2 linked regions of the Homo sapiens genome follow. The protein of the gene in region 1 purifies or fractionates together with the protein of each later gene. This does not show direct contact. Each region holds a gene or a part of one and is shown on either strand. Other genes may lie near its edges. The genes, in order: CAPN15 and KCTD7.

Region 1 (3,809 bases):
CCTAGGAGGGCGGGGGCGGCGTGCACACCGCCCCACGGTGCCGATACCTGACAAAGTCGCCGTACTCCATCCAGAAGACACCCTCACTGCTGCCGTGCGGCATGAGCTCGCCACGCAGGTGCCCCGGCCAGTGTGGCCACTCGTCGGACCAGCTGCCGTTCCAGGAGAAACGGCCCCACGGGTTTCGGAGCCGCAGAAGCCTGCAGACCACAGGGGTGAGGATCTGAACCACACTGCCCGAGTCTCACCGGCACCCCACCCACCCTCAGCCAGGCCGGCCCTACCTGGTGCCCTGGACATCTCGGACATCCAGGATGGAGTAGGCATGCCGGGGGCGCAGGCCCAGGCTCTCGTAGGCCGAATCGTCCACCTTCATGTTGCCCCCGCCACAGGAGGCACCCATGAGGAACCTGTGTGGCAGAGCGGCCCTCACCGACCGGGACCCTCACCGACAGGGGACCCTCACCGACCGGGGACCCTCACTGACCGGGACCCTCACCGACTGGGGACCCTCACCGACCGGGGCCCTCACCGACCGGGACCCTCACCGACGGGGCGCCCTCACCGACCGGGGCCCTCACCAACAGGGGCCCTCACCGACCGGGGACCCTCACCGACCGGGGCCCTCACCGACCGGGGACCTCACCGACCGGGGACCCTCACCGACCGGGGCCCTCACCGACCGGGGCCCTCACCGACAGGGGACCCTCACCGACCGGGACCCTCACCAACAGGGGACCCTCACCGACCGGGGCCCTCACAGACAGGGGACCCTCACCGAAAGGGGACCCTCACTGACCGGGACCCTCACCGACCAGGGACCTCACCGACAGGGGACCCTCACCGACCGGGACCCTCACCGACCGGGGCCATCACCGACGGGGCACCCTCACCGACCGGGGCCCTCACCGACCGGGACCCTCACCGACCGGGACCCTCACCGGCAGGGGACCCTCACCGACCGGGACCCTCACCGACGGGGACCCTCACCGACAGGGGACCCTCACCGACCGGGACCCTCACCGACTGGGGGCCCTCACCGACCGGGGACCCTCACCGACAGGGAACCCTCACTGACAGGGGGTCTCACTAACCAGGGGCATGGCTGAGTGGGGCCCTCACCGACTGGGGGCATGGCTGAGCGGGGCCCTCACTGACCGGGGCCTTGCTGACCAGTGCCCTCGCTGGCCGCGACCTTGCCACCAAGACAGGCAGGCGCAGCAGAGAAGGGCCCACTCCTGCCTGTAGGGACCACGTGAAGTGTTCAGGAGGGTCTGGACCAGCCCCCTCCACCATGCCTGAAGCGCACAGGGCCTGAGTCAGGGGTGGCAGGCCTGGGTCCCCTGGAGGCCTTGTGGGGCTGGCTCTGGGCTCTGTGGCTCCCGGGCGGGTGGGGGGTGGGCAGCAGCACTGCCCAGGGTCAGCTGAGAGGAGGGCTCCGGGAGCTTCAAGGTGCTCGCACCGGGGCACTCCGAGGAGGCCCCTGGGGGTCGAGGCACAGACCCGCTGACCAGAGTGTGGCCAAACTCGACACGCCGCTCACGCCTGCCCCGAGGCGGATGACGGCATCAGTCTCGCCCCACGGCCCAGGTCAAACTCGACACGCCGCTCACACCTGCTCCGGGGTGACGGCATCGGTCTCGCCCCACGGCCTGGCCAGGATGTGGCCTTCCTGGCATGAGAAGGCCAGCTCCAGCCCCGCCCAGGGAGGGGGAGGTGATTGGGGCTGTGGCCTGGCCACGCGGGGTCAGCCCACGCCAGGGGCACCTCGTGGAAGCAGAACTGGGTCAGGGGCCACCAGCCCCACATCTCCCACCGCTCCGCCTCGCCTCTCCTCCCAACGCGGCTGACCACGCAGTGCCCCTCCTCTTACCCAGCCTCCTTAGAACTCAGCATTTTGGCCCAGATGAGGTCAGTGTCAACGGGCTCCTCGCGGGGGTTAGTGGAGCTGAGCTGCAGCGCCAGGCTCTCACAGGGGGCGCCGGTGAGCGTGGCCAGGCCTTCGATGGCGCGGCCCGCCTGGAGCGCAAAGTAGGAGCCGTGCAGCTTGGCCAGCGCCTTCTCGATGAGGGCCACCCACAGCTGCTTCCGCTGCGCCTGCAGAGGGCCGGGTCAGAGGCCACCCCCGCCCGCCCCCCACACTACCCGCCCTGGGAGAAGAGGAAGCAGCCGGCCTTGTTTTCGGGGCTGGGGTCAGAGGCTGCCCCTGCCGCCCGTGCCCACCCTGCAGGCCGCCCCACCTGTGAGAAGAGGAGGCAGCCGGCCTCATCACAGGGCAGCATGTCGTCCACCAGCACCGTGGTCCACGTGCCGTCCTTGCACAGCCGCACCTGGTAGGCGCCCTCTGCACACAGGCTGCGCGTGACCATCACCCGCTCCACCAGGTCCGGCCGCTCCGCCAGCACCGCCAGGGCGCTCAGGAACCTGCGCAGAGCCTCAGGGTGACCTCGCGGGGACCGCGGCCGGTCGCCCGCCCACCCGCCCCACCCCGGCCTTGGAGAAGGCCTCACCAGCAGTTCCCCAGCAGCCCCTGCAGGATGTCTGAGGGCCGCAGTGTGTGGAACACAGACCACGTGGCCCTGTGGTCCCTGAAGACGGAGCAGTTGATCTCCTGGGGTCGCAGCCACTGCCTCACACGCTGCTGCACGCTGTCACCCGCGGGGAAGCCGACAGACTCGGGCCCGGGAGGGAAGCTGTCATCCACGAAGCTCACATTGTTCTGCAGAGACCACGGCCATGTGCTCAGGCTGGGCAGGGTGGCCTCGCTCCACCTGGCAGGGACAAGACCCCACCCAGGAGAGCGCCCAAAAGCACTGCCTGAGCCCCAAAGGGACGGGTGGAGCGTGGACAGCCACAGACCTGGCGCCGGCCCTGTGTCGAGGAAGCCCTCAGCCCTAGTGGAGAGGCCACCGGCTGGCGACAGGTGAGGAGCAGGGGACGTGTGGGCCCAGGGGGACAGCGCAGCCCCCAGTGGGTGGCAGCACGACTCTGGCCCTGGCCCTGCTGGGGAGGGTGCAGGCTGCGCCCCAGTTGACCCGTGGGTGATGCCATCCTGGACTCTAGAGGGCGGAGCACGGGTACATCCCGACCTCGCACTTCAGCGGGGTCTCCACGCTGCCCCTGGGAAGCCCTCGCCTCCTGCGGCACATCAGACGGGGCTCGGGGCCCTCCTGGCCACGGTGGAGGGTTGAGGGGGGTGAAGGTCGTGCATCTCGGTCACCAGCAAGGACCAAGGGTCAGGAGGCCAAGCTGGACCCCAGGGCCATTGGGAGCTTGGAGCCTCGGGGCGGAGGGTGCTGCCCTCCCCATCACGTCTTAGGCCTTGTGGGCTCCTCCCCAGCCCATCGCCAGAGCCCAAAGCCTAGGAAGGGGAGGGCGGGAGCAGGAGGCTCAGGAGCAGGAAGAGGGCGAGGGGGCGCCTCACCTCCCGGCAGAAGGCCACGATGTTCTCCCAGAGTGCCTTGGCCTCGCCCTCGTCTGTCTGCCGCCGCTGCTCCACGTGCATGCTCTCCCTGCGCCTCAGGGGCGCGGCCCCCCGCCGCTGGGCCACCAGGAGCTGAGGCGTGTGGCAGGCGGCGCAGTGCTTGGCCCGCAGTGCGTTGAGCAGGGTACAGGCAGGGCAGGCCCACTGGCCCGGGCGCTCGGGCAGGACGCGGGCGGCCTTCTGGGCCGAGGACACCCGTCCGCAGCTTCTGCCGCAGGGGCTGGGCTTGTCGGCCCCACAGTCGGGGCAGTGGGTGGGGGGCTCGCCATGCTCCTGGAAGCCGTGCAGTTTGGAGCAGCCGCAGGCCGAGCACCTGGGGGCCACT
Region 2 (2,643 bases), on another chromosome or scaffold:
AGCTTCAGTTTCCAGCCTGTATTATTAGTGTACTATAACTATGTGACTGTACTCAGTAATTAGTCAGGGAATACATTTGGCACAGATGATACAGTGCTTTTGTTTAAAAGCCAGAATAATCAGAGGTTTAAGGGAAGCAGTTGGAGGGTATGAAGCTACTCAGAGCCTCAGAACTCACCTTTCTGCGTTAATCCATGATGTGACTCCAGGGGGCATCTTGATGAGGACACTCATTAGCCAGGAAGGTGTCAAGCTCTGCTTTCAAAGGAAGGGCAACTTACGTCCATTTTTCTTAAGGAAGGGTCTTAACCACTGAGGCTTACATAAATTTAGAGCTACTTATTTCCCCCATTGAAAAGGAAGTGGTAATATGACAGGAGGAATTTATTTTAGAACTACCTGACATGGTTGTGAGCCACACACGTGACTGCACCTGCAGTCTCTTCTTTCCTTGGAGAACTCCCAAAAGAAGAGGACAGAGATTTTGCCTAGGCTGGGGTGGGCACATGCCTACATGAAACAGGGACAAGTCTAGAGTAACTCTAGAAGGGTCCTCAAGAGGCCCACCTCCCTTTCAGGGCAGAAATTCAGCTGCTGGTCTCAGGGAAAAGCCTGTCTTGTTGTGTGGGGCATCCCCAAACACACCACATTTTAAGCAGAAATAAAAAATATTTGCTGGCAAAGTGGGGGTCAGAGAAGAGATGAGAGCACATCTCTAAAAAAGAAAGGCACAGCACCCAGGTTCTAGTTCTTGACTTTAATGCCCTTGGAGTGTACTGAGGCTCAATACACCAAAGCACTCACAGACAGGTACATGAACTCACACAGGAAGTGTTATAGTGTGTACATAAACCCAACACCATACAGAAGGAAGACGACGGACCCAGGTGACCTCCCACACTCGAGGTGACTGCCTGTTCCCATACTCACTGTTTGTTCCCACCTCCCTCAACCCCTGCCAACCCCCATCCTTCCCCACTCAGTATGTATATACACAGATATGATTCTTTCAGAATTCCAAAAAGTGCCTCTCCCACCCCAGTTCCCAACACTACAGCTTTGGATGAAAAAAGCCTCTCTCTTTTAAGGATCATGAGACAGGTACCACCTTCACGCAAGAGCCCCAGCAAAATAGTACCCAAGAAAGCTTAATAATGTATATTGGAATCAAATATGGATAGAACATATGCAGAAGGACAATATTTGAAATATTACTAGGATCAAAACGCTCAGCATCAGTAGTTTTTGTTTTGTTATTGCTGTTTGCTTTAACCTGTTCAAGAGCTGGTTTAGACCAAGACCACACATGGATGCTCACACCGCCTGTGTCTTATAAATGTCACTTCCTATTCCTCCAGCAAGCAGCCCAGAACAGGAAGATTATATCACCTGATAAGCCTTAGGCACAAGGCTCAGACAGCTCCCAGAATATCCTAAGCCCCAGGAAAGAAGAACAGAAACTTCCAGAGTACAGCTGACTGCTTTCTGCATGGTAAGCACTGGGCAGCCTGGTGAACAAGGCAGAGGTAAAATAAGGAAGGTGATGATTCCTTCCATTTATTTAGAGTGTTACGCTAAGAATTCCTCTCCTGGAGTGGGATGCATTTCAGTGTGGTTTTGCTTCAGTCTTTTTTTGTTGCTATAACATTAGCTTTTTTATTTTTAAGGAATTTTGTTATGGCGAGCATTGCACCATTGGTCCCATCTCCTGAAACTTTCACTTTGCTTTGACTCACTGATAACTACTGGCCCGTCTCAAGGCAAGATGAATCCAGTCCCTTGTCAAGTGAGAGGGATTTACTGACATTATGCACAACAATTCTATAAAGATGCACTTCCTTATGATCAGGGAGAAGCTTTCATCCTTTGGAGCCTTCCTTCCAGACCCAACCCTTCTTCTGTTCTGGGCCTGGCCATTTAGAGTTGAAAAGGGATCAAATGGGGAAAAGTCACTTCCACAGGGATAACCCCTTTATCTGGAGGCCGTTACCACAATCCACCACATCTAATTGCACTTTTCAGCCTGGCCTTGGTTTCTCATTAGAGAATGGCGAAACTAGGCCACTGAATTCCTTCACTCCATTTAGAAAGAGCTCTCAGCTTGCTGCCCAGTGTCACCTCTCTGCCTGTTCTACTGGCCCAGAGCCTTGTGTCCTACAGTGGCACAGAATACATTACTGTGAGGATCACAAAGGGAGTCAGAGAAACAGGGATTTCTCCAGCGAGAGAGAGGAACGGTGTTCTTACCCAGCATCCCTGTAATCCTAAGCAAGCCTTCAGGACCTGTTTTTGAGCAAACTTGCATTTGAGCAAACAAGTCTCTCAATGGCTTGCATGTATGGACTCTAAATAACCAAGCCCTGCCATGCTCCATGGGAGAAGGGGGAAGCAGAAGGGGTCAAGGCCACATTACTGAAAGCAATGGGCTTAATGAACTGCTCTCTGTTCACACAGACTTTTTCAATAGTCTGCCTCTCTGTCAAAAAATGAACACATATTAGGCAGTAGGTAACACCAATCAGAAGAACCAAAATGAAAGCCTTTTCTCTTAGAACAATACAAGAGCCATGTTTTGGGGCTAACCTCCAAGCAGGGACATCAGCTCCAGAAAAGAGACTATCCCTTTGTGTACGAGAACAATAG

What was found.
Region 2: the proteins of CAPN15 (region 1) and KCTD7 purify together in Homo sapiens (affinity purification with western blotting, with the first as the bait; one study listed by BioGRID). This does not show direct contact.

The regions. Positions count from the first base shown.
Region 1 is NC_000016.10:547,903-551,711, reverse strand, and holds part of CAPN15 (calpain-15), read right to left. Parts: coding exon 3,425-3,809; intron 2,720-3,424; coding exon 2,511-2,719; intron 2,425-2,510; coding exon 2,241-2,424; intron 2,098-2,240; coding exon 1,874-2,097; intron 411-1,873; coding exon 285-410; intron 201-284; coding exon 48-200; intron 1-47.
Region 2 is NC_000007.14:66,641,147-66,643,789, reverse strand, and holds the end of KCTD7 (BTB/POZ domain-containing protein KCTD7), read right to left. Parts: 3' UTR 743-2,643; downstream 1-742. UniProt on the Homo sapiens protein: May be involved in the control of excitability of cortical neurons.